Linked DNA regions of Homo sapiens. The protein of the gene in region 1 interacts with the protein of each later gene in a pairwise test. Each region holds a gene or a part of one and is shown in the gene's direction. Other genes may lie near its edges. The genes, in order: TGFBR2, RAPSN, IDH1 and ATXN1.

Evidence for each region.
Region 2: the proteins of TGFBR2 (region 1) and RAPSN interact in binary tests that used the Homo sapiens proteins (3 or more experiments, as listed by UniProt).
Region 3: the proteins of TGFBR2 (region 1) and IDH1 interact in binary tests that used the Homo sapiens proteins (3 or more experiments, as listed by UniProt).
Region 4: the proteins of TGFBR2 (region 1) and ATXN1 interact in binary tests that used the Homo sapiens proteins (3 or more experiments, as listed by UniProt).

Annotation. Positions count from the first base shown.
Region 1 is NC_000003.12:30,601,588-30,610,265, forward strand, and holds the start of TGFBR2 (TGF-beta receptor type-2 isoform B precursor), read left to right. Parts: upstream 1-5,296; coding exon 5,297-5,390; exon of another isoform or gene 5,391-8,678. Other genes in the region: translation initiation factor IF-2-like, read right to left, coding at 4,897-5,337. UniProt on the Homo sapiens protein: Transmembrane serine/threonine kinase forming with the TGF-beta type I serine/threonine kinase receptor, TGFBR1, the non-promiscuous receptor for the TGF-beta cytokines TGFB1, TGFB2 and TGFB3.
Region 2 is NC_000011.10:47,439,000-47,446,792, reverse strand, and holds part of RAPSN (43 kDa receptor-associated protein of the synapse), read left to right. Parts: intron 1-3,978; coding exon 3,979-4,137; intron 4,138-4,871; coding exon 4,872-4,970; intron 4,971-5,059; coding exon 5,060-5,182; intron 5,183-5,495; coding exon of another isoform or gene 5,496-5,580; coding exon 5,581-5,634; intron 5,635-6,726; exon of another isoform or gene 6,727-6,787; intron 6,788-7,725; coding exon of another isoform or gene 7,726-7,793. UniProt on the Homo sapiens protein: Postsynaptic protein required for clustering of nicotinic acetylcholine receptors (nAChRs) at the neuromuscular junction. It may link the receptor to the underlying postsynaptic cytoskeleton, possibly by direct association with actin or spectrin.
Region 3 is NC_000002.12:208,251,494-208,259,310, reverse strand, and holds the start of IDH1 (isocitrate dehydrogenase [NADP] cytoplasmic), read left to right. Parts: upstream 1-4,239; 5' UTR 4,240-4,372; intron 4,373-4,852; exon of another isoform or gene 4,853-4,968; intron 4,969-5,007; exon of another isoform or gene 5,008-5,280; intron 5,281-5,351; 5' UTR 5,352-5,425; intron 5,426-7,743; 5' UTR 7,744-7,759; coding exon 7,760-7,817. UniProt on the Homo sapiens protein: Catalyzes the NADP(+)-dependent oxidative decarboxylation of isocitrate (D-threo-isocitrate) to 2-ketoglutarate (2-oxoglutarate), which is required by other enzymes such as the phytanoyl-CoA dioxygenase.
Region 4 is NC_000006.12:16,298,612-16,304,253, reverse strand, and holds the end of ATXN1 (ataxin-1), read left to right. Parts: 3' UTR 1-5,142; downstream 5,143-5,642. UniProt on the Homo sapiens protein: Chromatin-binding factor that repress Notch signaling in the absence of Notch intracellular domain by acting as a CBF1 corepressor. Binds to the HEY promoter and might assist, along with NCOR2, RBPJ-mediated repression. Binds RNA in vitro.

The DNA of each region.
Region 1 (8,678 bases):
TTTCACAATGTTGGTCAGGCTGGTCTCGAAATCCTGACCTCATGATCTGCCTGCCTCGGCCTCCCAAAGTGCTGGAATTACAGGCATAAGCCAGCATGCCCGGCCCATATTCTTTAACTGTATGTACAATTTAATTTGTAGATGATCCTAAAAGTCTAAATTGGAGTCCTACTGTCTTCCTCATCTTCAGCCCCCATAACAAACCTCATGATAGTTTTTGTCTATAAGAACCCCTTTGTAGTTTTACCACCTGCAAATTATTTAACCTTGCTTTTCCGTGATTCCTCACCCTTCACATCCCTTATATCTCTTAGCTATTGCCTCAAAAATTCTGGATAACAAACCAACCCAAATTTTTCCTTAAACGGCATTTACTTATTCTTACTCAGACTCATATGGATTGGCTAGAGGTAGGCTTGAGATTGGCTGATGGAGGTCTGGCTTAGATTCAATCAGGAGGTTGGTCCACATCTGTTCCACATGTCTCTCCTCCTCCCTGCATTTGCTGGTCTTTAAGTGCCTTCAACTGAAAATAATCAGTATACCAAAGCAGCATATTTTGGAGTGGCATTTCCTGAAATCCTTCACTGGTCAGGTGGCGAAGATCAACCACCTGATCAATTTGTTCTAGAGTGTAGAACAAGTCTGGAACTAGACAGGACTAAGTTCAAATCTGGGCTCTGTCTTTTACTAGCTATGTGACCTTTGTCAAATACTTAATCTCTTTAATCCTCAAATTCTTCATTTGTAAAGGGAAGATTAGAATAGTACTGCAAGGACATGCTCCAAAATTTAACAAGGATTATCTTTGGATAATAGGGTTAAGAATCCTTTTAAAGTCTGCCTTTAAAAAAAAAATCTAAATTTCCTACCTATAATTAACACGTATTACCCTTGTAATTTTCAAAAAGTTATTTTTTTCAAAACATACTATTGATGCTTTCTGTAAACATGTGGCATAATTGCAGGTTCTATTAATATCTGTGAAGAACTGCAAACAAGAGAATGGATTAGGAAAACTGATATTCTTATTTTTCTCTCTATTGAAGACAAGAAACACACACTGAATACTGATTATCTGTAGAGCACGGAGTGTGGTTCTACATTGAAAAAGGAATATTTTGTGCTTTTAAGGGCTTTACAATCATTAGGGTAGAATTCTAAAAAGCAAATAAATAACAATAATGTACTCCATGTTAGAATGGGGCAAACATTTTTTTTTAAAAAAAGGCTAAATAAACGAAATGTTCCCTGGGTTATCCCTGGGAAAGGAGTGATCACAGTAGGTGAAGCATCACAAAATATTTCCTGGAGGAGGTAGCATCATGGATGACCCACAAAGGGTGGATGACCCTCACAAATTAACTACAGTCTCAGTGCTTATTGGTTTGCTTCACAATAAAAGGAAAATTGGTCAAGAGATAAGAGCTGAGAATGAGGCTGGTTAATTTATAAGGAGAGGAATCTCCCTGTTAACTGCTCTAGCTGACAGTAACCTCAACAGCTGCATGTCACAAAGCTCAGGGGAGTAGGAAGTTCTTCTCTCATCACAACTGAGAAACCCAACGTTTAAATAAACCACAATTTGATTCAGTTCAATTGTGTGTGTTTGTGTGTGCGTGCAGAGTTTAAAAAGCTGGTAAAATAGATTGTCAGCTTTTAAAATTTCTGTTCAAGTTGATATTTATTGTTTTTCAACTCATTAAGGGCTTAAACGTTACCTTCCTTGTTTTTTAAACCCTGAGTCGGGCTATTATTTTTTTGTTCCCATTTGCAAATGGCCCAGTTTTTTACATGTATATATTAACTGCTTATGTGAATACACAAAATATTATACTAAGCCAAATATACAACTATGTGTGAAAATGATGTCTTGATTAAGGGTATCAGACATCCCTTTCAACAAGAATTTCAAAAGGAAGGGCATCATGACAATTTTTTTTTCTTTTTCTTTTATTTATTTTTTGTTTTTGAGACAGGGTCTCATTCTGTCTTCTAGGCTGAAGTGCAGTGGCACAATCATGGCTCACTGCAGCGTTCGTCTCCTGGGCTCAAGTGATTCTCCCACCTCAGCCTCCTGAGTAGTTGGCACTATAGATACATGCCAACATGCCTGGCTTTTTTTTTTTTTTTTTTTTTTTTAGTAAAGATGAAATCTCACTATGTTGCTTAGGCTGGTCTCGAACTCCTGGGCTCAAGTAATCCTCCCATCTAGACCTCCCAAAGTGCTGGGATTACAGGTGTGGACCACTGCACTCAGCCTGATGAATTTTTAAAATTATCAAATTGCAATATGCATGAGTTTACACATCTATTATTTTTATTATGATGATTTTCAAAAGGCTAGCTTGCACTTGGCAATGCTGAATTCTGATTCTTCTCAATTTCACAGGAGACTGGAGATTAAATCAGAAATGTTAAGGGCAAACAAAATTAAAATCAACATTAATGATGTATCATGGCAAAGACCACCAGTTAAACATTCCACCATAGATTTAAATATCTAGCCTCCAACAATGTAAAACATCTTTGTGATAATTAAGGAAAACAAAGCTTTTGGAATCTATTGGACATTTATTTGCCACATTGTGTTTTCAGGAGAAAGAAAGTACATGTTTGCTATCTGGAGGAACTTGGGCAAATGTAGGAAAAAAAAAAGAAGAAGAAAGAAACCCACATACTTCTCCATTCTTAAGAAAAGGAAGTAGTGGTGACATCATTCTCGGCTAAAATGTAGTCTGTTTATATCTCAAATATTCGGTAACAATGTTTTCTCCAGAGTTATGAAGCAACTAGAACAATCAAATACAATTTTCTTCTAAATCTTTATTGCCTGATTCATTCATTCATCCAACAAATATTTATTAAACATCGATTATGTGTTTGATGCTTAGGGACACAATAGTAAGTGGAGGGAAAGATACATAATACCTGCCCTCAAGAAATTTGGAGTTGAGTGGAGGATAGAAATATAAATTAAAGAATGACACAAATAATTATAAAGTTACAGCTGTTAAAAGAAAAGCATATGGTGCCAAGAGAACGTGTAATACAAGATCTACTCATGGAGGTGAGGGAAAGCTTGCCCATCAAAGAAGTTATGATTCAATCCACGAAGACCAGGAGTTGGCTGGGTGAAGAAAAAAAGGTCAGAGGAAGGAAGTCCACACTGGGGAAGGCTCTAAGCATAAAGGGTAGGAGGATTACAGAGGCATATTCACGAAATTTGGAGAAGGCTTTCAGTAAGCAAGGAGAAGCCAAATGAAAGTTTACGGGAGAGTTGGAGGCTTGAAGACACGTTCAAGGATCTGGTTTTTATCTTCTCTTTATCTCAAGAGCAGTGGGAAGCCATTAAATGATTTTAATCAGAGGGTTGGTATAACTAGTTTTGTATTTTGAAAAGCTGAATTCAGCTCTCGTTTGAGAAACTGAGTGAAAGAGCCCAGAACGGCCGTGGCTGAGGGTGACTCGTGGGAGACTCCTACACAAGCCATGGCAGTGGCATGGGCTGGTGGCAGAAGAGGGAATAGGGAGAAGATTTGGAACTCAATCTTCCTCCATTGACAAAGTCACTCCAGCTTTGGCAAGGCAATTAATTGGTGGGAAAGAAGATGCCTAGCCCTCCTGATTTCACTGCACTTTCTGCATCTTCAACATGAGTACTGGGAAGTGGCAAAACATCCAGAGGCAGCTTGGGTGCTAGGTGGAGCATGAGTTAAAATTCCAGGATGAAGCAAATGAACACTTAGAATGACAGGAAAGATTTGGGAGTTGGGTTTGGGGGAGGGCTATTTACCTTTATTCCCTGGAGACCCTGGCACAAACCCTTGCCTCTGCAATCTTCCTCTCAGGTAAAGGAATTCATTAAATGAATTGCTAGAAGATCTACTGACCAGAGGGCTGTACAGAATCATATCTTTGAGAGTGGGAAGTAGGTTGATCACATAGTTTATTATCCAATCAGGACATATCTGAAAGAGAAAGGGGGTTCTATTAATATTTAAACTACAAAACATGTACACCAGGAATGTCTTGGGCAAATCTGGTTGCCCTAGCAAGAAAGGAAATTTGAAAGTTTATACTGTTCTGCTCCCATGTTACCCCGTTTGCACATGAGAGGGTAAGTATTCTCTTTCTTCACCTGCATTAAGGGAATAAAAGCACAAGCATTCAGGTGACTCCCAACCCACTTTTAATTTTACAGTTTCTGCTATACTCTATACATTCTGAAAATTACATTTCCCACCACTATCACTTCGTGATAGGTGATCATTTACAATTACTCACTGACTCAGTCCCGGGAAGAGGCGGTGCAAAATGGGACGCTCTATCCAGGTGCTCATTAGAAATGCAGAATCTCTGCCTGCCTCCTAGACCTACTGAATTAGAATCTGCATTTTTAAATAAGATTTCCAGGTGATCAATATGTACATTAAAACTTGAGAAAAACCTCTAGACTTCGACCTAAAGAAAAACATTTTACAACTTGACAGTGTATGCACATACATACATGCATATAGACACAACTGAAGCACAAATTTAATGAAGTAGAATTTACCGTTACTATTTTATTTGGGAAAGAAATGTGCTCGCGACTCAATAGATTGGAGTATTCACTCCTGGATCTCAACTTGCAATTTGAAAACGCATCTCTAAAGCACCTAGGAGCAATCTGAAGAAAGCTGAGGGGAGGCGGCAGATGTTCTGATCTACTAGGGAAAACGTGGACGTTTTCTGTTGTTACTTTGTGAACTGTGTGCACTTAGTCATTCTTGAGTAAATACTTGGAGCGAGGAACTCCTGAGTGGTGTGGGAGGGCGGTGAGGGGCAGCTGAAAGTCGGCCAAAGCTCTCGGAGGGGCTGGTCTAGGAAACATGATTGGCAGCTACGAGAGAGCTAGGGGCTGGACGTCGAGGAGAGGGAGAAGGCTCTCGGGCGGAGAGAGGTCCTGCCCAGCTGTTGGCGAGGAGTTTCCTGTTTCCCCCGCAGCGCTGAGTTGAAGTTGAGTGAGTCACTCGCGCGCACGGAGCGACGACACCCCCGCGCGTGCACCCGCTCGGGACAGGAGCCGGACTCCTGTGCAGCTTCCCTCGGCCGCCGGGGGCCTCCCCGCGCCTCGCCGGCCTCCAGGCCCCCTCCTGGCTGGCGAGCGGGCGCCACATCTGGCCCGCACATCTGCGCTGCCGGCCCGGCGCGGGGTCCGGAGAGGGCGCGGCGCGGAGGCGCAGCCAGGGGTCCGGGAAGGCGCCGTCCGCTGCGCTGGGGGCTCGGTCTATGACGAGCAGCGGGGTCTGCCATGGGTCGGGGGCTGCTCAGGGGCCTGTGGCCGCTGCACATCGTCCTGTGGACGCGTATCGCCAGCACGATCCCACCGCACGTTCAGAAGTCGGGTGAGTGGTCCCCAGCCCGGGCTCGGCGGGGCGCCGGGGGTCTTCCTGGGGTCCCCGCCTCTCCGCTGCGCTTGACAGTCGGGCCCGGCAACCCGGCCCCCGGGCGGAAACGAGGAAAGTTTCCCCCGCGACACTCACGCAGCCCGACTCCCGTAGCTGCAGGGATTGTGAGTTTTTCTTGAAAAAGAGAAGGAAAGTTCAGTTGCAAGGGGCGCGGGGCACGTTTGGTCCCCTTTGTGCGAGCAGGAAAGGCGTTGTGTTGGCCGCGTTCGAGGCGAGCCCCCACCCCCGGAAAGGGAAGTTTGAGAAGTTGGTTATCTGAAGGCGGCCGGGGAGCAGCGGCCCGGAGCGGCAGCCTGAGCTGCCAAAGCAGCCAGCGCACCTGGGCCACTCCGCCCATGGCGATGCCGCGTGCCCACCCAGCTCTTTCTGAGCCACCCGTTCAAAAGGCCAGCTCCTCAGTCCTTAGCTCCTGGAGACGGCCACGCTTTCCCTCAGGCCGGCTTCTTGGCCCGGAGTTTTTGGAAACAAGTTTCAAGAAAATAATCGATTTCCAAAAGAAAGTTAGCTGGCTCCACTGACGCCTTGGCATGGATGGATAGGGAGTGGAGATGCTCAGGTGAAACCGAGAATCCCTCACTGAATGCCTACTGGGTGCTAGAGGCTGTAGATTTTGCCTGGAACAAGATAGTCCTGTCTTCAGGGAGTTGATGGTTCTATGCAATTATCGTTTGTTGGAAACCGAAGGGTTAAAATCCTAACTAGGCTACCCACCTGATCGCTGTCTCTGAAGGTTTTTAAGGAAAAAATAAAAATAAAAAAATATATATATATATTATATATATATAAATATATATATAATTATATATATAAATATATATAATATTAATATATATATGCATGCAGGAATGGGGGTTCTTAACTATTTGTTATGGAAAGTGTAAAACCTCTGAGACTTCAAAAGTTAGATTTTTTTTTTTTGGAGACGGAGTCTCGCTCTGTCACCAGGCTGGAGTGCAGTGGCGCAATCTCGGCTCACTGCAACTTTGCCTCTGGGTTCAAGCGATTCTCCTGCCTTAGCCTCCCGAGTAGCTGGGATTACAGGCGCGTGCCACCACGCCCAGCTAATTTTTGTATTTTTAGTAGAGACGGGGTTTCACCATATTGGCCAGGGTGGTCTCGATCTCTTGACCTCGTGATCCGCCCACCTTGGCCTCCCAAAGTGCTGGGATTACAGGCGTGAGCCACCGCGCCCGGCCAAAAGTTAGACTTTTTGCAGCTATGATCCAAATAACAGTATCTGCAGCTGTGGTCTGGGTAACCGAGTATTTGGGCAAGTCATAGAGCTTTTTCTGGGCCTTAGTTTCCTCATCTGTAAAATGGCCAGCTTGAATCTGGGTAATTTTACATCATCTTCATGTTTAACATCTTACGTATCGTGCCCCTCCCCTCCTTTCCCCTGGCTCTTCTGGTGACTTGGAGATGACCCATGTAGACTTTGGATGAAATGTAGAGGAGTTGACAGTCCACATCACCCGGAGGCACTCATTTTATTTATCCAGGGACATGGGCAGATTTACCTTTAGGTTTGTCTAGAAAAAATGCGCATCACGGTCAGTTGTAAATTTTAGAGTGTTTGAAGTGGATTGGGAACTTTTTAAAAATTATGGCATACATTGAAGGTGGCATGGAGATGGAAGCTTTTAATCAAATTAGGAAGAGGCACTATTGCAAGCAAAAAGTCTTGACACACATTTGAGTCCTATGGTTTTAATAAAATCTTAGTGTTTCGTTCTTGGCGTTTTTCCTGCATTGCAGTACCAGAATGTTCAATTGTCTCTCATTTTCCTCCAGACTTTTAAAACCTAAGTGACATTTTGCTAATAAATATTTAAAATGGCACCCTTAATTTTCTGTGGATGTTAAAAATCATTACAACTTTTGTTCCAGATTATAAAAGAAGGAAATTAGCAGGCCCTGATGTTGTTAGTTAGGTTCTGTTTACAAGGATAAGGTTTATGATTTGCAAATTCCAGACCCAATAGTTCACGAGTCACTTTCATTTCATCAATATACACACTTTTAAACAATTAGCTTAAAAACGTGGTGGCTTTTTATTTGGGTATTTAGACAGTTTTACAAGGCCCACAGATTTCATATTTTTATAGAACTGAAGTTTCAAAATGGTTGAATTAATGAATCATTTTGAATTTGTATTCATTTGATTCAAATTAAATTTTCAAAGTTGGCCAATGGTTGAAGACAGATATATTGAAGACGAGAAACCTAATTCTACTTACATTTTAATTTTTCATGTAAGTAAATAGTTTCAGAATTTCTCTAACGTAATTGGTAAACTGAAAACATTTTTTCAAAATATCTTAATGCAAGATAATATATCAGGTAATGAGATTGTTTAATAAACAACAAGCTCCTTTTACGTCACCTAAAAAGGCCCAAAAATCTGTCTTCTGTTTAGTAGCTTCTGTACTTCTGTTTAGTAGTATGCAAAGGATTTAAATAAAAGAACAAATTTCACTAAGAAATAGAAAGTTTTTTTTTCTTCGTTTTTGACTTAATAGATTCACTCTTCCTAAATGATCAAAATTAAGAAATGACTCTTTTGGGGAAAACTGTAAAGTGCACAATAACTCTTCAGGTCTGAAAAATATGACTTTTCAGGTTCCTGGAAGTAGATAGATTCTTATTGAGGACAAAGAATTTGTAAAAGTGTCATAGTGATCAGGTTCTTCACATCACTTTAATAACCTGCTTATTTTGTCAGGGTAAGAGACTAGACATCATTAGGCCCCAAATCTGATCTTCAGTCTACTCGTGCTTTTTTTCCGCCTCATAAAAACACATTTCCACCTTTAGGCCACTCAACATCTTATTTTTAATGAGTTATGATTTATACAAAATACTAATCACATTTTGAACTCATTGCCTTCTTTTCAATGTAGCATTCCCTAATGATGACTGTTGTCTATGTAGTCAACATAACTACTACATGTTTTCTACTCAGTTATGAACATGACTTTTTAATTTTTTCAGTAAGGTTAGTTTTTAACTCTGGATCAATAAGGCACCTCTGATATCATTGCAAAAACTGGGCATTTTTTCTTCTACCTTTTCAACCATATTTATTGAGTATCTCTTGCCAGGCAGGATGCTCAGACCTGGGATACCATCTCAGATGAATAAGACAGACCTGGTCTTTGCCATTGAATTTAACAGCTGGGAGCATGTTATAAGTAAAGAAAAGGATACGTGTTTTAACTGTTTATA
Region 2 (7,793 bases), on another chromosome or scaffold:
GCTGGGACTACAGGCGTATACCACCACGCCCGGCTAATTTTTGTGTTTTTAGTAGAAATGGGGTTTCACCATGTTGGCCAGGCTGGTCTTGAACTCCTGACCTCAGGGATCCGCCCGTCTTGGCCTCCCAAAGTGCTGGGATTACAGGCGTGAGCCACCGCACCCGGCCAACCCTGGGTATTTTTGTTCCCTTTCCCCTCAGGTATCTGTGCTGTGCTTGGTCCATGGGGGATTTAATGCCTGGCCCCAGTAGATGCTTAATAAATCTTGGAGTTAGTGAGTGGATAAATGCTGATGGATCCAAGGTGGGATGGGAGGAAACGAGTCACCAAGGATGACAGCCAGGACTTTGTTTTTAGGAAGCAGATGTAAGGGGGAGCCATTCAGTGAGATGAGATAGGACTGGGGCAGGACAGGGGTTTTTAAAAACCTTTTTAATTCTGAAGAAAAGTAAGCTAGGCCTGGTGGCTCACACTTGTAATCCCAGCACTTTGAGAAGCTGAGGGGTGAGGATCGCTCAAGACCAGGAGTTCCAGACCAGCGTCTACAAACAGTTTTTTTTTTTTTTTAATTTGGCAAGGCTCATGCCTATAATCTGAGCACTTTGAGAGGCCAAGCAGAAGGATTGCTTGAGCCCAGGAGTTTGAGAGCAGCTTGAGTCGCATAGCAAGACCCCATCTGCACCAAACTTTAAAAATGAACCAGACATGGTGGCTCACACCTATTGTTTCAGCTACTCAGGAGGCTGAGGCGGGAGGATCGCTTGAGCCCAGGAGTTTGAGGCTGCAGTGAGCCATGAGTGTTCCACTGCATTCCAGCCTGGGCAACAGAGCAAGACCCTGTGTGAGAGAAAAAAAAAAAAAGCCCAAGTGTGGGCTTGTGGGGTGTTCATTGCTAGTGGGATGTCCGTGCTTCTAAATCTTTTCAGTTATCAGAATAATGGAAGTTTATACTGACATTTCCAATTCAAATCTAATGTTTCAGGAGCTCCCCTTAACTTATTTTAAACTTGATTGTCTTTTCTCTTAGATGAAAAATCTTAGTTTCTAACCACATAATTAAATATTTGCTTTACCCTACAAAATACGTAAAATAATTCCAAAAGACAATACCAATATTACTCTAGAAAATAAAGACAACTGAATGAAGTTTAAGATTTCTTTGCTGTTCTTTTGGCTTTTTTTTTTTTTTTTTTTTTTGAGACAGTCTCGCTCTGTTGCCTAGGCTGGAGTGCAGTGGCTCGATCTCGGCTCACTGCCACTTCTGCCTCCCGGGTTCAAGCGATTCTCCTGGCTCAGCCTCCCGAGTAGCTGGGACTACCGGCACACGCCACTATGCCCAGCTAATTTTCTGTATTTTTAGTAGAGACGGGGTTTCACCATGTTGGCCAGGATGGTCTCAATCTCTTGACCTGGTGATCCACCCGCTTCAGCCTCCCAAAGTGCTGGGATTACCGGTGTGAGCCACTGTGCCCAGCCTTGTTTTTGTAATGTATCCCACTATGGGTAAACTGAGTACTTTTGTTCCAAAGTCATTGAAATAATATATATATATTTTTTTTTAGAGACGGAGTCTTACTCTGTCACCCAGGCTGGAGTGCAGTGGCACGATCTCGGTCACTGCACCCTCCGCCTCCCGGGTTCACGCCATTCTCCTGCCTCAGCCTCCCGAGTAGCTGGGACTACAGGCGCCTGCCACCACGCCCCGCTAATTTTTTTTGTGTGTGTATTTCTAGTAGAGACGGGGTTTCACCATGTTAGCCAGGATGGTCTGGATCTCTTGACCTTGTAGTCCACCCGCCTTGGCCTCCCAAAGTGCTGGGATTACAGGCATAAGCCACTGCGCCCGGCCAAAATAATTATTTGTGTGTGTGGTTGTAGTAATATGACACACAGTTAGGGACATTTATTTACTTTTTTTTTTTTTTTTTTTTTTGAGACAGTGTCTTGCTCTGTTGCCCAGGCTGGAGTGCAGTGGCGCGATCTCGGCTCACTGCAACCTCTGTCTCCCAGATTCAAGTGATTCTCCTGCCTCAGCCTCCCAAGTAGCTGGGACCACAGGCACTTGTCACCACACCTAGCTAGTTTTTTTGTATTTTAGTGGAGATGGGGTTTCACCATATTAGCCAGGATGGTCTCGATCTCCTGACTTCATGATCTGCCCATCTTGGCCTCCCAAAGTGCTGGGATTACAGGTGTGAGCCACTGCACCCAGCCTTAGGTTTTTGTTTTTGTTTTTGTTTTTGTTTTTTTTTGAGACAGGATCTTGCTCTGTCACCCAGGATGGAGTGCAGTGGCTCAATCACGGTTCACTGTAACCTAAAACTCCTGTGTTCAAGCGATCCTCCCTCCTCAGCTTCCTGAGTAGCTGGGACTACAGGCACATTCTTCCACATCTGGCTAATTTTTAAATTTTTTGTAGAGACAGTGGTCTTGCAATGTTGCCCAGGCTGATCTTGAACTCCTGGCCTCAAGCTGTTCTCCCAACTCAGCTTCCCCGAGTGCTGGGATTACAGACATGAGCCATTGCACCTGACCTCCATTTTCTATTTTTAGGTATTTTTCAAATTAAATTTAATTTTTTAATCTGTAAAACATTTATGTGGCTTCAAAAGTATGTAATAAGGCATATTAGGAAAAGGGTTTTTTGGGGGGGTTATTGACACTTCTCTTTTGGTCATGTTAACTTGGAGCTGCTTGTTAAATATTAAGTGAAAGATCAAATAGATTTACCTTGAAAAAGAACAGTGAAATGGGGCTTTAGCTGAAGGGAAATGACGTCACGAGAAGGTGGGTTAGTTTTCTTTTTTCTTTCCTTCTTTTCTTTTCTTTTCTTTTTTTTTTTTTTTTTTTTTTTTTTTTGTGAGACAGAGTCTGCCTCTGTCACCCAGGCTGGAGTGCAGTGGTGCAATCTCAGCTCACCATATCCTCGACCTCCTGTGCTCAAGTGATTCTCCCACCTCAGCCTCTTGAGTAGCTTGGAACTACAGGCGTGCACCACTATGCACAGCTGATTTTATTTTTGTAGAGACAGGGTCTCACTAAGTTGCCCAGGCCATTCTCCAACTCCTATGCTCAAGCGTTCCTCCTGTCTTGGCCTCCCAAAGTGCTGGGATTCCAGGCGTGAACCACTGTGCCTGGCCCAGTTTTTATTTTTTAAATGAGATGAGAAATGCCAGACATGTTTGCACGTGGATGGGAAAGATTCTGTAGAAAGAGAGGACCTGACGATGCAGAGACTGCTCATCGGAGGCTGGCATTTGATGGGAACAGGAGCCATCCTCCACAGTGACAGGAAAGGAGGCAGGGAGCGTGGGAGCAGAGGTGCGGAGATGGGAGATCTGGTGGAGACAGGAGGGGAAGGAGCTTCTCCCTGATTTTCTTCCTTTTCCTCGTGGAGTTGAGGCGAGGTCATCAGCTGACCATGAGCAGGTAGAAAATGCATTTGGAAGCTTGAGGAAAAAGTACAAGCCAATGGTTGCATCGCCTCGCTGAGTCTGTCTGATGTTCTTTTGAGCCTGTTGTGCTGCCAGTCTGCCACTGAGCTTCAGTGAACACCTGCTTCCGGGTGCCAGCAGGCAAGCTCTAGTGGAGGGATCTGGTATCTCCCATCCCTGTGCATCTCTGAAGCTGAGGAGCCCATTTGGCATTGGGAGAAAAGAGAAGCCAACTGTGTTTTCTTGTCTTTTCATTCATTCACTCAACAAATATTTATTGTGCATCTACCAAGTGCCAAGAACTGTGCTAGGCTCTTGGGATGCGTCACAAACCAGATGAGAATCCCTGAGTCCACAGAGCGACACCTTTGCACTGGCTGTTCCCTCTACCGGGCCACTCTTGTCCTGGATGTCACAATGAATGAGCAGACACTCGGGCCCCCTGCCCCTACCTGCTGTTAGAGAAACCTAGCCCAGGAGCCCTTGACTTGGGGCAGCCTCTGCCACTCAGTTTGCCTCCTTCCATTCCATGTCCCCTGCAGGACTACGAGAAAGCCCTGTTCTTCCCCTGCAAGGCGGCAGAGCTTGTCAACAACTATGGCAAAGGCTGGAGCCTGAAGTACCGGGCCATGAGCCAGTACCACATGGCCGTGGCCTATCGCCTGCTGGGCCGCCTGGGCAGTGCCATGGAGTGTTGTGAGGTGGGGCAGCGGGGAAGGGGGCAGGTCGGGGATGAGGTGGTGTGGGCCAGGGGCTGGGGCCTGGGACAGCAGGGCTTCCTTCTTCCAAATCAGCCCATGGAAGCCCCCTAGGGCTTGCCTCTGGCCCAGCCTCTCTAAAGGCGTGCACCACCATGCACAGCTAATTTTATTTTTGTAGAGACGGGGTCTCACTAAACCACCCTCCTGTGCTGAAGCGATCCTCGTGTCTTGGCCTCCCAAAGTGCTGGGATTCCAGGCATGAGCCACTTGTGCCTGGCCCAGTTTTTATTTTTTAAATGAGATGAGTTCTCTACAGCTGAACCCCTGAAGGAAACATTTGTCCCCCAGCCTCATCCCAAACCCACTCCCTTCCAATCCATCTGCAGGGGAGGGGGCTTCCTTCTGCCCCAACACCCTATATGGGGTACTTTGAAGGGTAGAGACGGAAGAGGGCCAGTTTCTGGAGTCCCACTGACCTGGGTTCACATCCCAGCTTTGTCACTTACTGGGTGACCCCAATCAAGTCACTTCTCTTTGAGCCTCACTTTCCACCCACCTTGCTGGGTGCTGTGACTTCAGTGGTTCAGTGTGTGAGCCCTCAGCACCATGATAGATTCACTAGGCTCTGAGGATGTTGCTTCCCTGGGCTGTCCCTTCAGAGGGGTCTGTTGAGGGGAGGGCACTCCAGTGGTGGTGGCAGAGGAGTAGGCCTGAGCCACTGGCCTCCCTCGCAGGAGTCTATGAAGATCGCGCTGCAGCACGGGGACCGGCCACTGCAGGCGCTCTGCCTGCTCTGCTTCGCTGACATCCACCGGAGCCGTGGGGACCTGGAGGTGAGGTCACCGGGATGCAGGGGCTGGGGGCAGGGGGCAGGGGCACAGGCCTGATACAGCCTGATTCCATCCCCCACCTGGCTCTGCAGACAGCCTTCCCCAGGTACGACTCCGCCATGAGCATCATGACCGAGATCGGAAACCGCCTGGGGCAGGTGCAGGCGCTGCTGGGTGTGGCCAAGTGCTGGGTGGCCAGGAAGGCGCTGGACAAGGTGAGGTCGGGCCTTTCCCACAGCCTCCAGCCCTCCCAGCACTCCCCACTTGGGGCCAGTAGGTTAGCCGGCTCTTTCAGCCACTTTGTCTGACGTCAGCCTCACCCTGATCCTACGAGGCCAGGACATTCCTGGTCATTTTCCAGGCTCAGAGAAGGCCCATCACTTGCCCTAGGACCCACAGCTAGTAAAGGGCTGGAACCCTGGGTAAACTGAGGCAGGAGGTCACTTGCCCACACAGCCCCTATGACTGTGCCCTAGTCTCTTCCTGCTGCCTTCACACACAAGGCAGCTGCCATGTCACCCTCCCTAGGCCTGCCCCCCTACCCTGTGCTTCCCTGTGAGCAAGGCCTGTCAGACAGCTCTGCCCGCAGCCCTGGCCTATGCTCACCTTCCAGGCTCTGGATGCCATCGAGAGAGCCCAGGATCTGGCCGAGGAGGTGGGGAACAAGGTCAGACTTGATTCTGTGTCCTGGATCTGGGGTCAAGGGCCCAAGTGGGGAACTTGGGTCTGGGGAAGGGCCTTCCTGAGCCTACTCACGTCATGAGCCCTTCCTGATGCTGGGAGCTGCCTGCAGCCAACCCCATACTCTGGCTCTTTCTCTGCCACACACACAGCACTTCTGAGGGCAGGGCAGAAGTTTCATAGCTTGGAGGATAGCAGAATTCCTCAGAAGCTTCCTGATGTTGATTAAAACCCCTAACAGTGGGCTGGACATGGTGGCTCACATCTATAATCCTAGAATTTTGGGAGGCCGAGGTAGGAGGATCACTTGAGCCCAGAAGTTCGAGAGCAGCCTGGGCTACATAATGAGACCCATGCTCTAAAAAAGAAAAGAAAAGAAAAGAAAAAAACATTTTTGAGATTGAGTTTTGCTCTTGTCTCCCAGGCTGGAGTGCAATAGCGCGATCCCAGCTTACTGCAACCTCTGCCTCCCAGGTTGAAGTGATTCTCCTGCTTCAGCCTCCTGAGTAGCTGGGATTATAGGCACCCGCCACCACACTGGGCTAATTTTTGTATTTTTTATAGAGATGGGGATTCACTGCGTTGGCCAGGCTTGTCTGAAACTCCTGACCTCAGGTGATCCACCTGCCTCGGCCTCCCAAAGTGCTGGGATTACAGGCATGAGCCACCAGGCCCGGCCTCTACAAAAAATGTTTTAAAATTAGCCAGCTGTTGTGGCACACACCTGAGGTCCCAACTACTTGGGAGGCTGAGGTGGGAGGATAGCTTGAGCCCAGGAGGTCAAGGCTGCAGTGAGCTGTGATTGCTCCACTGCACTCCAGCCTGGGTAACAGAGTGAGACCTTATCTCAAAACAAACAAAAACTAACAGTGGCCTCCACTCCCTGAGCACTGAGCACACACAGGGTCCTTATGGGTACTGGGTCCAGTCCTCACTCTCTCCCTGTGAGGTGAGTACAGCAAGCCCCATTTTACAGATGAGGAAAAGTGAGGCTCAAAGAGGCGTCCAAGGTCCCACACCTACTAACTTGTCTGTTTTAACTACAAAGCCCATGTTCCAAATTTAATAATGGTATCTAGTGCTTGCTTTGGCAGCCCATATTCTGAAATTGGAACAATACAGAGAAGATTAGCATGGCCTAAAAACCAAAACCAAGGCCGGGTGCGGTGGCTCACACCTGCATTTTGGGAGGCCGAGGTGGGCAGATCACCTGAGATCAGCCTGACCAACATGGTGAAACTCTGTCTCTACTAAAAATACAAAAATTAGCCAGGTGTGGTAGTGCACGCCTGTAATCCCAGCTGCTTGGGAGGCTGAGGCAGGAGAATCACTTGAACCCGGGAGGTGGAGGTTGCCATGAACCAAGATTGTGCCACTGTACTCCAGCCTGGGTGACAGAGCAAGACTCCATCTAAAAAAAAAAAAAAAAAAATCGTCATAATCTTATTAAAACCTTAAAATCTTGAAAACAGGTTCACCACTTCTCAAAGCCTTCCAGATGTGCATTTCTACGAGATCCTGTGCACAGTCCAACCAAAATGCCAAAATTTGGTTGGATTATAGCCACTCTGGTTTACCTGGGTATCAGGCTGATCAGAAATGCTGATGAGCTATTGTGTGTATATTTAATTAATAAAAACAGGAAAGCAGATTAATTATTATTTTTTTTTGAGACGGAGTTTCACTATTAGAGCCCAGGCTGGAGTGCAGTGGTGCGATTTCGGCTTACTGCAACCTCCGCCTCCTGGGTTCAAGCGATTCTCCTGCCTCAGTCTCCTGAGTAGCAGGGATTACAGGCACTCACCACCACCCCCGGCTAATTTTTGTATTTTTAGTAGAGATGGGGTTTCGCCATGTTGGCCAGGCTGGTCTCGAACTCCTGGCCTCAGGTGATCCACCTGCCTCGGCCTCCCCAAGTGCTGGGATTACAGGCATGAGCCACGGCGCCCTGCCGCAAATTATTATGGAGTCTGTGCACCAGGTTTGGTCATAAAATCTGTCAAAAACATGGGGTCTCCAGGCAGTTCTGGGGGGTGAAGTCTTCTGATCTCACCCACCGCCTCATTCTGCATGAAAGGAAGCAAGGTCCCAGAGAGGGCAGGACATTTTTCCAAGGTCCATCAGCAAGACAGGGAAGTGGCTGAG
Region 3 (7,817 bases), on another chromosome or scaffold:
AAATACAACCACATTAGAATATTTATGAGAATCCCATTATCTGGATGAGTGTGTCAAAACCAAATGCTTACAGAAATTTCATGGCCTGTGTTTCCATTTGTGTTTATAACAGTATTTGGGGCCAGACTATTAAAATACTCAGATTCTTTTACTGGCTAAATGAAAGACAAATGATGTCAACACATGAAATATTAACCAAATAGAGAGGGGTGCTGGGCTAAATGAACCATCATATGTCATCCAGTAAAATAGGCCGGCTATGTAAAAAAGAACGTGCACATGGCCAGGTGCGGTGGCTCACGCCTGTAATCCCAGCACTTTGGTAGGCCAACACTGGTGGATCACGAGGTCAGGAGATCGAGACCATCCTGGCTCACATGGTGAAACCCCATCTCTACTAAAAATACAAAAACAAAATTAGCCAGGCGTGGTGGTGGGTGCCTGTAGTCCCAGCTACTCGGGAGGCTGAGGCGGGAGAATGGCGTGAACCCGAGAGGTGGAGCTTGCAGTGAGCTGAGATTGCGCCACTGCACTCCAGCCTGGGTGACAGAGCGAGACTCTGTCTCAAAAAAAAAAAAAAAAAGAACCTGCACATAACCAGTGAACTTCATCTTCCCATTTCAAGAAGTAATTTAATTTCAGCTAAATGTTATTTGTTGTATTTAAGTGATATTAATGGTGATGTATTGTTTTCTACTTTTCTTTCTAGTCATTTTATCTATAAATTTTTTTATTTTACAGTTGTATGAGCTGTCAGCCTAAGGAGCATATATCTAGTTTTATGCATATTTATAGCAATATTTTAATGTCAATCCTAGGGATCTGAAAAATAATTTTTTTAAGAGATAGGATCTCGCTTGGTTGCCCCAGTTAGAGTGCAGTGGTGCAATTATAGCTCACTGGAGCCTGCAGCCTCGAATTCTTGGGCTCAAGTGATCCTCCCACTTAAGCCTCCCAGGTAGGTAGAACTATAGGCGCAAGCTTGCCTGTCTAATTTTTGTTTGTTTGTTTGTTTGTTTGTTTTGTATAAAGAGGGTCTCCCTATGTTGCCCAGGCTGGTTGCAAACTCCTAGCCTCAAGCAATCCTCCTGCCTTGGCCTCCCGAAGTGCTGAGATCACAGACTTGAGCCACTGCACCCAGCCAGATTTTTCAGTGGAAAATCAACTCCTCCATTACTGGCTTAGGAAACACTGTTTTAGATGCTGAGACTCCAATAACTGCCACCTTTACTAGTACATTGGCTTAAAGCCAAATTTGCAGCCATCTCTAGCAAGTGTTTAGGATTTGATATAACATGTTTGATGATTGAATTTGCCTTGGTTCTATATAACATCCTATAGCTATTCATTTTTTAACCTTATTTTTCTCAATTATAGTCAATGTTTTTATTGTGCTATATTTGATGTGTTTTTATGGCTGCCCTACATTATTTTGGGAACAAGAAAGGATATGAATGCTTACTTTCGGTAGGGAGAAAGGGGTAATAAGCAATGTGAACCTGATATAATATAAAGTAATTACAGTCTCAGGTGTCTTAGGGCATCAGATTCAAGATGAAAATTAAGAGTGGAGAAAAGAAAGGGAGATCAGATTGTTACTGTGTCTATGTAGAAATGGAAGACATAAGAAAGTCCATTGTGATCTGTACTAAGAACAATTATTCTGCTTTGAGATGCTGTTAATCTGTAACTTTAGCCCCAACCCTGTGCTCACAGAAACATGTGCTGTATTGAATCAAGGTTTAATGGATTTGGGGCTGTGCAGGATGTGCCTTATTAACAGTATGTTTGCAGGCAGTATGCCTAGTAAAAGTCATCACCATTCTCCATTCTCTGTTAACCAGGGACACAATGCACTGTGGAAAGCCGCAGGGACCTCTGCCCAAGAAAGCCTGGGTATTGTCCAAGCTTTCCCGCAACTGAGACAGCCTGAGATATGGCCTTGTGGGAAAGGAAAGGCCTTACATCCCCCAGCCTGACACCCGTGAAGGGTCTGTGCTGAGGAGGAGTAGTGAAAGAGGGAGGCCTCTTTGCAGTTAAGAGGAAGGTTTCTGTCTCCTGCTCGTCCCTGGGAATGGAATGTCTCAGTGTAAAGCTGACCATTCGTTCTATTCTGAGATAGGAGAAAACCGCCCTGTGGCTGGAGGCGAGATATGCTGGCAGCAATACTGCTCTGTTACTCTTTGCTACACTGAGATGTTTGTGTAAAGTGAAACATAAATCTAGCCTATGTGTACATCCAGGCGTAGTACCTTTCCTTGAACTTATTCATGATACAGATTCCTTTGCTCACATGTTTCCTGCTGACCTTCTCCCCACCATCACCCTGTTGCCCTGCCACACTCCCCTCGCCAAGATAGTAAAAATAGTGATCAATAAATACTGAGGGAACTCAGAGACCAGCGCTGGTGCGGGTCCTTGCACATTGAGCGCCAGTCTCCTGGGCCCACTGTTCTTTCTATATACTTTGTCTCTGTGTCTTATTTCTTTTCTCAGTCTCTCGGCTCCACCTGATGAGAAATACCCACAGGTGTGGAGGGTCAGACCCCCTTCAAAAAGCTCATATACCTCTCTAAACAGTTCTACAGGAATAAATGGAGGTGGCTGCCAATATCCCTTAAGCCACCTCAAAAACCAAGTTGACAAGGTGTATGCTTTTTTCTTTTCTCTCGGGAAAAATACCAGTGCCCTCTGGTGTCCAAAGTGCACCTTGAGTAGTACCACGTAGATCAGTTTATCTTCAAAGAATAATGTACTAATTCAATGTTAGAGATAATTTTTTAAAATAAATTTTGGAGGCTGGGCACGGTGGCTCACGCCTGTAATTCCAGCACTTTGGGAGGCCGAGGCAGGCGGATCACTTGAGGTCAGGAGTTCGAGACCAACCTGGCCAACATGGTGCAACACCGTCTCTACTAAATACAAAAATTAGCTTAGCATGGTGGCACACCTGTAGTCCCAGTTACTTGGGAAGCTGAAAGAGGAGAATCACTTGAACCCAGGAGGCGGAAGTTGCAGTGAGCCGAGACTGCACCAGCCTGTCAGGGCAAGACTCTGTCTCATAAATAAATAAATAAATAAATAAATATTGGAGCATTAAATTCTGGGCAGCAATATACAAGCATGCTATTGTCCTACAAATCACAATATAAAATACTCTTTATTTTCATGTTTTTGAGAGCAATGAACACACAAAATATAATCTCTGGAGGAGACTAAAATTCTTTTTTCAATCCACCGTTTTCTAAGGCTTCACATCTCTAGTCCAACTTCATTGGATCACAGATAATCCCCCGCCAACTGAGCATGGTGGCTCACGCTTGTAATCCCAGGACTTTGGGAGGCCGAGGAGGGCCAATCACTTGAGTCCAGGAGTTCGAGACCAGCCTGGGCTGCTGAAACCCATCTCTACCAAAGGAAAAAGAAAAGAAAAGAAAGAAAGAAAAATTAGTTGAGTGTGATTGTGTGCACCTGTAATCCCAGCTACTCGGAAGGCTGAGGTGGGAGGATCTCTTGAGCCCAGGAAGTCAAGGCTGCAGTGAGCGGTGATCGCTCCACTGCACTCCAGCCAGGGCAACAGAGCAAGGCCCTGTCTTAAAAAAGAAAATAATAAGAATCCCATTCATTATCTTCTAATGCAAACAATCAATGGAGTTTCTAAAGACCTAGACATAGGTGGTGTCAGGACCTGCTTCTGTAACTTTTCCATCCTTTGCATTAGGCAGCGCGGAACCCCCTAGGCGACCCCGCGCTGGCCGGGAGCACTCTTTCTTCAGCCAAAGGTACGTTCCATTACCGCCCCTCGGGGGCGCGCTAGGCAGCGGGCCGGCCAAGCTGCCGCCGCCCAGGGCGCCCTGTCCCGTTCGCTTTTGTGCCGACCTGGAAACACTCTGTGGTGCTCTAGATTGTTACAAAGTTCGGGGTGGTGCAGCCCCAGCGCGCCCCGCTCCCCGGCCTGCAGGTGGCATACAAGTCTCTTCGCTGTCGGGATTCGGGACTGAATCTCTGCCGGGCGGCAACCCCTTCCCCCACCGGGATCACCGGGAAAGTGGCACCATGGATTCTCCATCTTTGACTGTGGCCACGCCCCTCTCGCTGACTCCGCCCATCCCACGGGAATTGGCGTGTGGCGATTGGAGGCGTGTCGGGGGCGGGGCTGGGGGAGGTGGGCTGAGGAGGCGGGGCCTGGGAGGGGACAAAGCCGGGAAGAGGAAAAGCTCGGACCTACCCTGTGGTCCCGGGTTTCTGCAGAGTCTACTTCAGAAGCGGAGGCACTGGGAGTCCGGTTTGGGATTGCCAGGCTGTGGTTGTGAGTCTGAGCTTGTGAGCGGCTGTGGCGCCCCAACTCTTCGCCAGCATATCATCCCGGCAGGTAACCTCAGGCTCCAAGGGGCGGCCCCGGTCCCTGGCTGTGGAGGGGTGGCTCTAATTCCGCAGAAGGCAGGAATGGGGTAAAGGAAAAAAGCGCAGATCTTGGGTGTGGAGGGAGTCAAGGCCTGCGTGCAAAGAAGGGAACAAATCCAGGTATTGAGAATGGGAAAAGAAAAGGGAAGGAGGGGATGCTGGATGCTTGGATATGCAGAAGGTCTGCTTTTGGGCCTGGGAGGGAGAAACTGGGCGGTGAGGAAGTTGGATGCAACGACAAGGGGAAAATCAGGTCTGCACTTGGGTTGGAAAATCGAGGGGTGGAAGTTGCAAGAATGCATGTAGAAGACTAAGCCTGGAGTGTAGGAGGAAGAAAACGTGCAGCAGCTGGGGGCTGGATGCAAAGAAGGCTGTAAGCCGCAGACGGGCGTCTGCAGGCAACTCAGGCGGCGAGGAATAGCCTTGAAGCCGATCCCTCGCGTCCGCCAGGGGGCGTGGAGGGGCGGAGCTCCAGCGGCCTTCAGAGGGGTCGCTAGGCCACACGGGGCGAGAGGGGGCTGGGGGAAACACCCCCGCCAGTTCCGGGTGCCTGGAGTTTAAAAGGTCCCAGCACCAGCGAGGGGAGGGGAGGGGAGGGGCGGGCGTGGAGACCTGGAAGGAGGTACCGATCCAGCCTTGATTGCAGCCCTCTTGCACAACGGCCATAAGGACGGGTGCAGGCCAAGAGCAAGGACATGCAAACCCCAAGACCTGCTAACGGGCGGCGAAGCGGGGGCACGCCCTCGCACACGCAGAGATAAATTGTGCTCCCATGACCTTTATTTGGAAAGTGCCTGCGGGCCTAAAATTGGCCTTTGTCCCACCGAGTACACTCAGCACTGTACTTTAAACCGGATAAACTGGGCTGTCTGGCAGGTACTAAAAACAGCTAAATTCTCCTGTGAGTGTTCTGTATGTTAACACTTTTATTCCTTGTTTTGTTTTAGGCGATAAACTACATTCAGTTGAGTCTGCAAGACTGGGAGGAACTGGGGTGATAAGAAATCTATTCACTGTCAAGGTGAGAATTAGCAAATTTTCCCCCTTCTTCTGTACTTTCTTTGATGTGGCAGTACAGTGTTTAACTGGTCTTGGGGGCAGGCCGAGGCACTGCAAGGGAATGAGTGAGGAATATTTCCAACAACGAATTCCAACAGCTTCCTTGTTTCTTTTAATACAGTGTCTTATCTGCAAGAGATCCTTTTTGCCCAGAAATTATTGTAGTTCATGAACTCGGCAAAAAACAATCTGGCCAAAAACTTGAGGTTGATGAAAATAATATTAAATGGCTCTTTTTTTTCATTAAACTACTCTGTATTGTTATTCCAGGTTTATTTTCTGGAATTGCACAATTATGTTAGGAGATAGGATTCAGCTACTTCATATGAGCTGGTGCCTGCTGGTCTTGGAACAGCCCTTCCTTCTGAAGTTGGGATTGGGTTGGAGACAAAATCTGAGGGGCAACAAAGGTGGAGAAGTCAGTCCAGTGGGGCCTCAAGCCCATCCCATGGAAATCAGATCCAGAAGAAATACAATTATGTTCCACATGGTAGTAACAATAAAGCTTCACTGTTTTAGTTAAAAGATGGTAAAAATTTCATGGCTAAGTAATGTGAGGAAAACCTGAAGCGTCTGAAGTATGCATTATGAGATAAAGAAAGATTACTGCAGAGAGTACAGTTGCTTTAACTGAGAAGGAAATAGTGAACTAAAAAGATATCAGTCTTCACATTTTAGGTACAATATTTGACCTCTATTAACTGTATTTGCCATCAAGAATAAATTGCCATGTCATGACTGTTGCATCATACTATATAGGGACATGGCCATGGAAGTGTATTATCAGGAACCAGATAAGTTCACTGCCTCCTTTTTTGCTTTGTTTTAAAACAAGGATAGGTGTGACAGTGGAATCAAACATGAACTGAATCATATGCTTTCAGCTGTACTACAAATTATACTTGACATTACAAATGGGAAGTAATTGACTCATCCACACCATTCTGTTCATTTCTTTTAGTCTAGTTCAGTTCCAGAAGGTTCCCCCAAAGGAATCTCCTAAACACTAGTAAGAAGAATTCTAGAATTGCGAATTTGGGAAGTGAAAATGGGCCTGGGGATTGGAAATACATCCAGGCTTGTCAAGAAACAGACGCTTACTGTCTACTAATCATTACATTTTTATTTAAAGACCAAATTACTTTAGCTCAATTTTTCAAGAAAGACTATTTTAGGCTTCTTATCTAATAATTCTTTAAAGTCAATTCTCTTGACTTTTTTAGTCCTTAAGAGAATAAAAGCAATTTGCAGCTGTGTTGTTGGATTAAAAAAGAGTTTCGATTAGAGCATCATTAGAAGGAATAGATAACTTTTAGCAGGCTCAGAGCTTCTTCTGCCTCTAGGGACAAGCTGGGACAGTTTCATTTCTTCCAAAGCGTCCAACCTTGCACTTTCTGAGAATCAGATTGATTTGTATATGCTACCCCCACACCCTATCCTTAAAGTGCTGTCTTCCTAGGACAATGCACAGTTTGTCCTATCCCACTCACTAGCAGCTTACCCTTGCCTGTGAACAGCCAGAAGAAGATGACAGGGACATGCTTGGGTCCTGGGCAGTGGCCCTACTGTATAGAGATTCTTCTAATTGAGAAATCACTTTGTTGTATTTAGCCCCACATCTCCAATGTCTGTGTTATCTCTAGGAAAACAGTTCCACCAGGAATTCTTCGTCTCGCTTTTAGACTTAAAGTTTCCCTGAATATGGGTCACAGGAACCAGCTGAATCTCCTCATGGCTAGTTATTTTTATTAAATAACAAAAACAGCCTCTTAAAGGAGGAGAAATGCTAGCACTCACCATTCTGGACATCTTGAGAGCCCAGTAAAATGATGAGTTGGACTGAAGTGTTCAATAAACATGAGATTGTGGAAATAATCTCATTTCTTAAGACAAACCAGTAGTTGAGAATAATGATTGCATTATGAAGGGCACGTTATAGGGTCAGGCTCTGCCACGCTCTAGCTAGGTGGCCTTGGGAAAGCTCTTTTTTTTTTAACAAAGTAAAATGGGGAAATGATGGCCATTTTTTTGGATTGTTATGAGGGCTAGCTCAGAAACCGCGTGTGAAACATAACACAATACTTTGTTCAGAGAAGATACTCAATTCTAATGGTAAATAGAATTGCTGTTACTAGCTTTTTATTCAACTACACATAAATTGAATTGCATGAATTGTTCTTTTAGTAGTCACTACGTTGTTTATATAAACACTACGTTGTTTATATATTTCACTTTATAATGAAATAAATGACAAGGCATGTATTTTTTTTTTCTTTTTAGGTTTATTGAAGTCAAAATGTCCAAAAAAATCAGTGGCGGTTCTGTGGTAGAGATGCAAGGAGATGAAATGACAC
Region 4 (5,642 bases), on another chromosome or scaffold:
GCAACTAAACTGAACAAATACCTGACTTTTCTTTTACCCCATTGAAAATAGTACTTTCTTCGTTTCACAAATTAAAAAAAAAATCTGGTATCAACCCACATTTTGGCTGTCTAGTATTCATTTACATTTAGGGTTCACCAGGACTAATGATTTTTATAAACCGTTTTCTGGGGTGTACCAAAAACATTTGAATAGGTTTAGAATAGCTAGAATAGTTCCTTGACTTTCCTCGAATTTCATTACCCTCTCAGCATGCTTGCAGAGAGCTGGGTGGGCTCATTCTTGCAGTCATACTGCTTATTTAGTGCTGTATTTTTTAAACGTTTCTGTTCAGAGAACTTGCTTAATCTTCCATATATTCTGCTCAGGGCACTTGCAATTATTAGGTTTTGTTTTTCTTTTTGTTTTTTAGCCTTTGATGGTAAGAGGAATACGGGCTGCCACATAGACTTTGTTCTCATTAATATCACTATTTACAACTCATGTGGACTCAGAAAAACACACACCACCTTTTGGCTTACTTCGAGTATTGAATTGACTGGATCCACTAAACCAACACTAAGATGGGAAAACACACATGGTTTGGAGCAATAGGAACATCATCATAATTTTTGTGGTTCTATTTCAGGTATAGGAATTATAAAATAATTGGTTCTTTCTAAACACTTGTCCCATTTCATTCTCTTGCTTTTTTAGCATGTGCAATACTTTCTGTGCCAATAGAGTCTGACCAGTGTGCTATATAGTTAAAGCTCATTCCCTTTTGGCTTTTTCCTTGTTTGGTTGATCTTCCCCATTCTGGCCAGAGCAGGGCTGGAGGGAAGGAGCCAGGAGGGAGAGAGCCTCCCACCTTTCCCCTGCTGCGGATGCTGAGTGCTGGGGCGGGGAGCCTTCAGGAGCCCCGTGCGTCTGCCGCCACGTTGCAGAAAGAGCCAGCCAAGGAGACCCGGGGGAGGAACCGCAGTGTCCCCTGTCACCACACGGAATAGTGAATGTGGAGTGTGGAGAGGAAGGAGGCAGATTCATTTCTAAGACGCACTCTGGAGCCATGTAGCCTGGAGTCAACCCATTTTCCACGGTCTTTTCTGCAAGTGGGCAGGCCCCTCCTCGGGGTCTGTGTCCTTGAGACTTGGAGCCCTGCCTCTGAGCCTGGACGGGAAGTGTGGCCTGTTGTGTGTGTGCGTTCTGAGCGTGTTGGCCAGTGGCTGTGGAGGGGACCACCTGCCACCCACGGTCACCACTCCCTTGTGGCAGCTTTCTCTTCAAATAGGAAGAACGCACAGAGGGCAGGAGCCTCCTGTTTGCAGACGTTGGCGGGCCCCGAGGCTCCCAGAGCAGCCTCTGTCACCGCTTCTGTGTAGCAAACATTAACGATGACAGGGGTAGAAATTCTTCGGTGCCGTTCAGCTTACAAGGATCAGCCATGTGCCTCTGTACTATGTCCACTTTGCAATATTTACCGACAGCCGTCTTTTGTTCTTTCTTTCCTGTTTTCCATTTTTAAACTAGTAACAGCAGGCCTTTTGCGTTTACAATGGAACACAATCACCAAGAAATTAGTCAGGGCGAAAAGAAAAAAATAATACTATTAATAAGAAACCAACAAACAAGAACCTCTCTTTCTAGGGATTTCTAAATATATAAAATGACTGTTCCTTAGAATGTTTAACTTAAGAATTATTTCAGTTTGTCTGGGCCACACTGGGGCAGAGGGGGGAGGGAGGGATACAGAGATGGATGCCACTTACCTCAGATCTTTTAAAGTGGAAATCCAAATTGAATTTTCATTTGGACTTTCAGGATAATTTTCTATGTTGGTCAACTTTTCGTTTTCCCTAACTCACCCAGTTTAGTTTGGGATGATTTGATTTCTGTTGTTGTTGATCCCATTTCTAACTTGGAATTGTGAGCCTCTATGTTTTCTGTTAGGTGAGTGTGTTGGGTTTTTTCCCCCCACCAGGAAGTGGCAGCATCCCTCCTTCTCCCCTAAAGGGACTCTGCGGAACCTTTCACACCTCTTTCTCAGGGACGGGGCAGGTGTGTGTGTGGTACACTGACGTGTCCAGAAGCAGCACTTTGACTGCTCTGGAGTAGGGTTGTACAATTTCAAGGAATGTTTGGATTTCCTGCATCTTGTGGATTACTCCTTAGATACCGCATAGATTGCAATATAATGCTGCATGTTCAAGATGAACAGTAGCTCCTAGTAATCATAAAATCCACTCTTTGCACAGTTTGATCTTTACTGAAATATGTTGCCAAAATTTATTTTTGTTGTTGTAGCTCTGGATTTTGTTTTGTTTTGTTTTTTAAGGAAACGATTGACAATACCCTTTAACATCTGTGACTACTAAGGAAACCTATTTCTTTCATAGAGAGAAAAATCTCCAATGCTTTTGAAGACACTAATACCGTGCTATTTCAGATATGGGTGAGGAAGCAGAGCTCTCGGTACCGAAGGCCGGGCTTCTTGAGCTGTGTTGGTTGTCATGGCTACTGTTTCATGAACCACAAGCAGCTCAACAGACTGGTCTGTTGCCTTCTGAAACCCTTTGCACTTCAATTTGCACCAGGTGAAAACAGGGCCAGCAGACTCCATGGCCCAATTCGGTTTCTTCGGTGGTGATGTGAAAGGAGAGAATTACACTTTTTTTTTTTTTAAGTGGCGTGGAGGCCTTTGCTTCCACATTTGTTTTTAACCCAGAATTTCTGAAATAGAGAATTTAAGAACACATCAAGTAATAAATATACAGAGAATATACTTTTTTATAAAGCACATGCATCTGCTATTGTGTTGGGTTGGTTTCCTCTCTTTTCCACGGACAGTGTTGTGTTTCTGGCATAGGGAAACTCCAAACAACTTGCACACCTCTACTCCGGAGCTGAGATTTCTTTTACATAGATGACCTCGCTTCAAATACGTTACCTTACTGATGATAGGATCTTTTCTTGTAGCACTATACCTTGTGGGAATTTTTTTTTAAATGTACACCTGATTTGAGAAGCTGAAGAAAACAAAATTTTGAAGCACTCACTTTGAGGAGTACAGGTAATGTTTTAAAAAATTGCACAAAAGAAAAATGAATGTCGAAATGATTCATTCAGTGTTTGAAAGATATGGCTCTGTTGAAACAATGAGTTTCATACTTTGTTTGTAAAAAAAAAAAAGCAGAGAAGGGTTGAAAGTTACATGTTTTTTTGTATATAGAAATTTGTCATGTCTAAATGATCAGATTTGTATGGTTATGGCCTGGAAGAATTACTACGTAAAAGGCTCTTAAACTATACCTATGCTTATTGTTATTTTTGTTACATATAGCCCTCGTCTGAGGGAGGGGAACTCGGTATTCTGCGATTTGAGAATACTGTTCATTCCTATGCTGAAAGTACTTCTCTGAGCTCCCTTCTTAGTCTAAACTCTTAAGCCATTGCAACTTCTTTTTCTTCAGAGATGATGTTTGACATTTTCAGCACTTCCTGTTCCTATAAACCCAAAGAATATAATCTTGAACACGAAGTGTTTGTAACAAGGGATCCAGGCTACCAATCAAACAGGACTCATTATGGGGACAAAAAAAAAAATTATTTCACCTTCTTTCCCCCCACACCTCATTTAAATGGGGGGAGTAAAAACATGATTTCAATGTAAATGCCTCATTTTATTTTAGTTTTATTTTGATTTTTATTTAATATAAAGAGGCCAGAATAAATACGGAGCATCTTCTCAGAATAGTATTCCTGTCCAAAAATCAAGCCGGACAGTGGAAACTGGACAGCTGTGGGGATATTAAGCACCCCCACTTACAATTCTTAAATTCAGAATCTCGTCCCCTCCCTTCTCGTTGAAGGCAACTGTTCTGGTAGCTAACTTTCTCCTGTGTAATGGCGGGAGGGAACACCGGCTTCAGTTTTTCATGTCCCCATGACTTGCATACAAATGGTTCAACTGTATTAAAATTAAGTGCATTTGGCCAATAGGTAGTATCTATACAATAACAACAATCTCTAAGAATTTCCATAACTTTTCTTATCTGAAAGGACTCAAGTCTTCCACTGCAGATACATTGGAGGCTTCACCCACGTTTTCTTTCCCTTTAGTTTGTTTGCTGTCTGGATGGCCAATGAGCCTGTCTCCTTTTCTGTGGCCAATCTGAAGGCCTTCGTTGGAAGTGTTGTTTACAGTAATCCTTACCAAGATAACATACTGTCCTCCAGAATACCAAGTATTAGGTGACACTAGCTCAAGCTGTTGTCTTCAGAGCAGTTACCAAGAAGCTCGGTGCACAGGTTTTCTCTGGTTCTTACAGGAACCACCTACTCTTTCAGTTTTCTGGCCCAGGAGTGGGGTAAATCCTTTAGTTAGTGCATTTGAACTTGATACCTGTGCATTCAGTTCTGTGAATACTGCCCTTTTTGGCGGGGTTTCCTCATCTCCCCAGCCTGAACTGCTCAACTCTAAACCCAAATTAGTGTCAGCCGAAAGGAGGTTTCAAGATAGTCCTGTCAGTATTTGTGGTGACCTTCAGATTAGACAGTCTTCATTTCCAGCCAGTGGAGTCCTGGCTCCAGAGCCATCTCTGAGACTCGTACTACTGGATGTTTTAATATCAGATCATTACCCACCATATGCCTCCCACAGGCCAAGGGAAAACAGACACCAGAACTTGGGTTGAGGGCACTACCAGACTGACATGGCCAGTACAGAGGAGAACTAGGGAAGGAATGATGTTTTGCACCTTATTGAAAAGAAAATTTTAAGTGCATACATAATAGTTAAGAGCTTTTATTGTGACAGGAGAACTTTTTTCCATATGCGTGCATACTCTCTGTAATTCCAGTGTAAAATATTGTACTTGCACTAGCTTTTTTAAACAAATATTAAAAAATGGAAGAATTCATATTCTATTTTCTAATCGTGGTGTGTCTATTTGTAGGATACACTCGAGTCTGTTTATTGAATTTTATGGTCCCTTTCTTTGATGGTGCTTGCAGGTTTTCTAGGTAGAAATTATTTCATTATTATAATAAAACAATGTTTGATTCAAAATTTGAACAAAATTGTTTTAAATAAATTGTCTGTATACCAGTACAAGTTTATTGTTTCAGTATACTCGTACTAATAAAATAACAGTGCCAATTGCAGATGTGTGTCTTTGCCTTCTGTTGGGTCCTCAAGGAAGAGGCCAGGAAAAGAGTGCTAATTCCTCCTCCTTATTGACCCCCGCTCACGAGTTCTCCCTGGGTAGGTCGGAGGTAGGGAGGTGTGACATGAGGCATTGCCTTCGCTGCTAATGTTTTGGGGGGAAGAGTACGTGTGAGATGAGGTTCTAAGATAAAAGGCACACAGCCACACCTGATGTCTTGGTTTCTTCAGTTCATGTTTATGCCTCCTAGCTGAACACTGCTGTTCACAAGAGGTATACTTGTCTTTAAACATGTGGTAGCTTCATGCGCTCGTGTGGCATAATCTATACACTCCTTACAGATTTGCTCTAAACTGGTTAGTGGTCTGTAAGTGGAAAATTTATTTTTACTTCCTGTAATTCAAGCTCATTAGAAATTCAGCGAGCAGACCGGGCACAGTGGCTCACGCCCATAATCCCAACAGTTGGGGAGGCCGAGGCACAAGGCCTGCTTGAGCC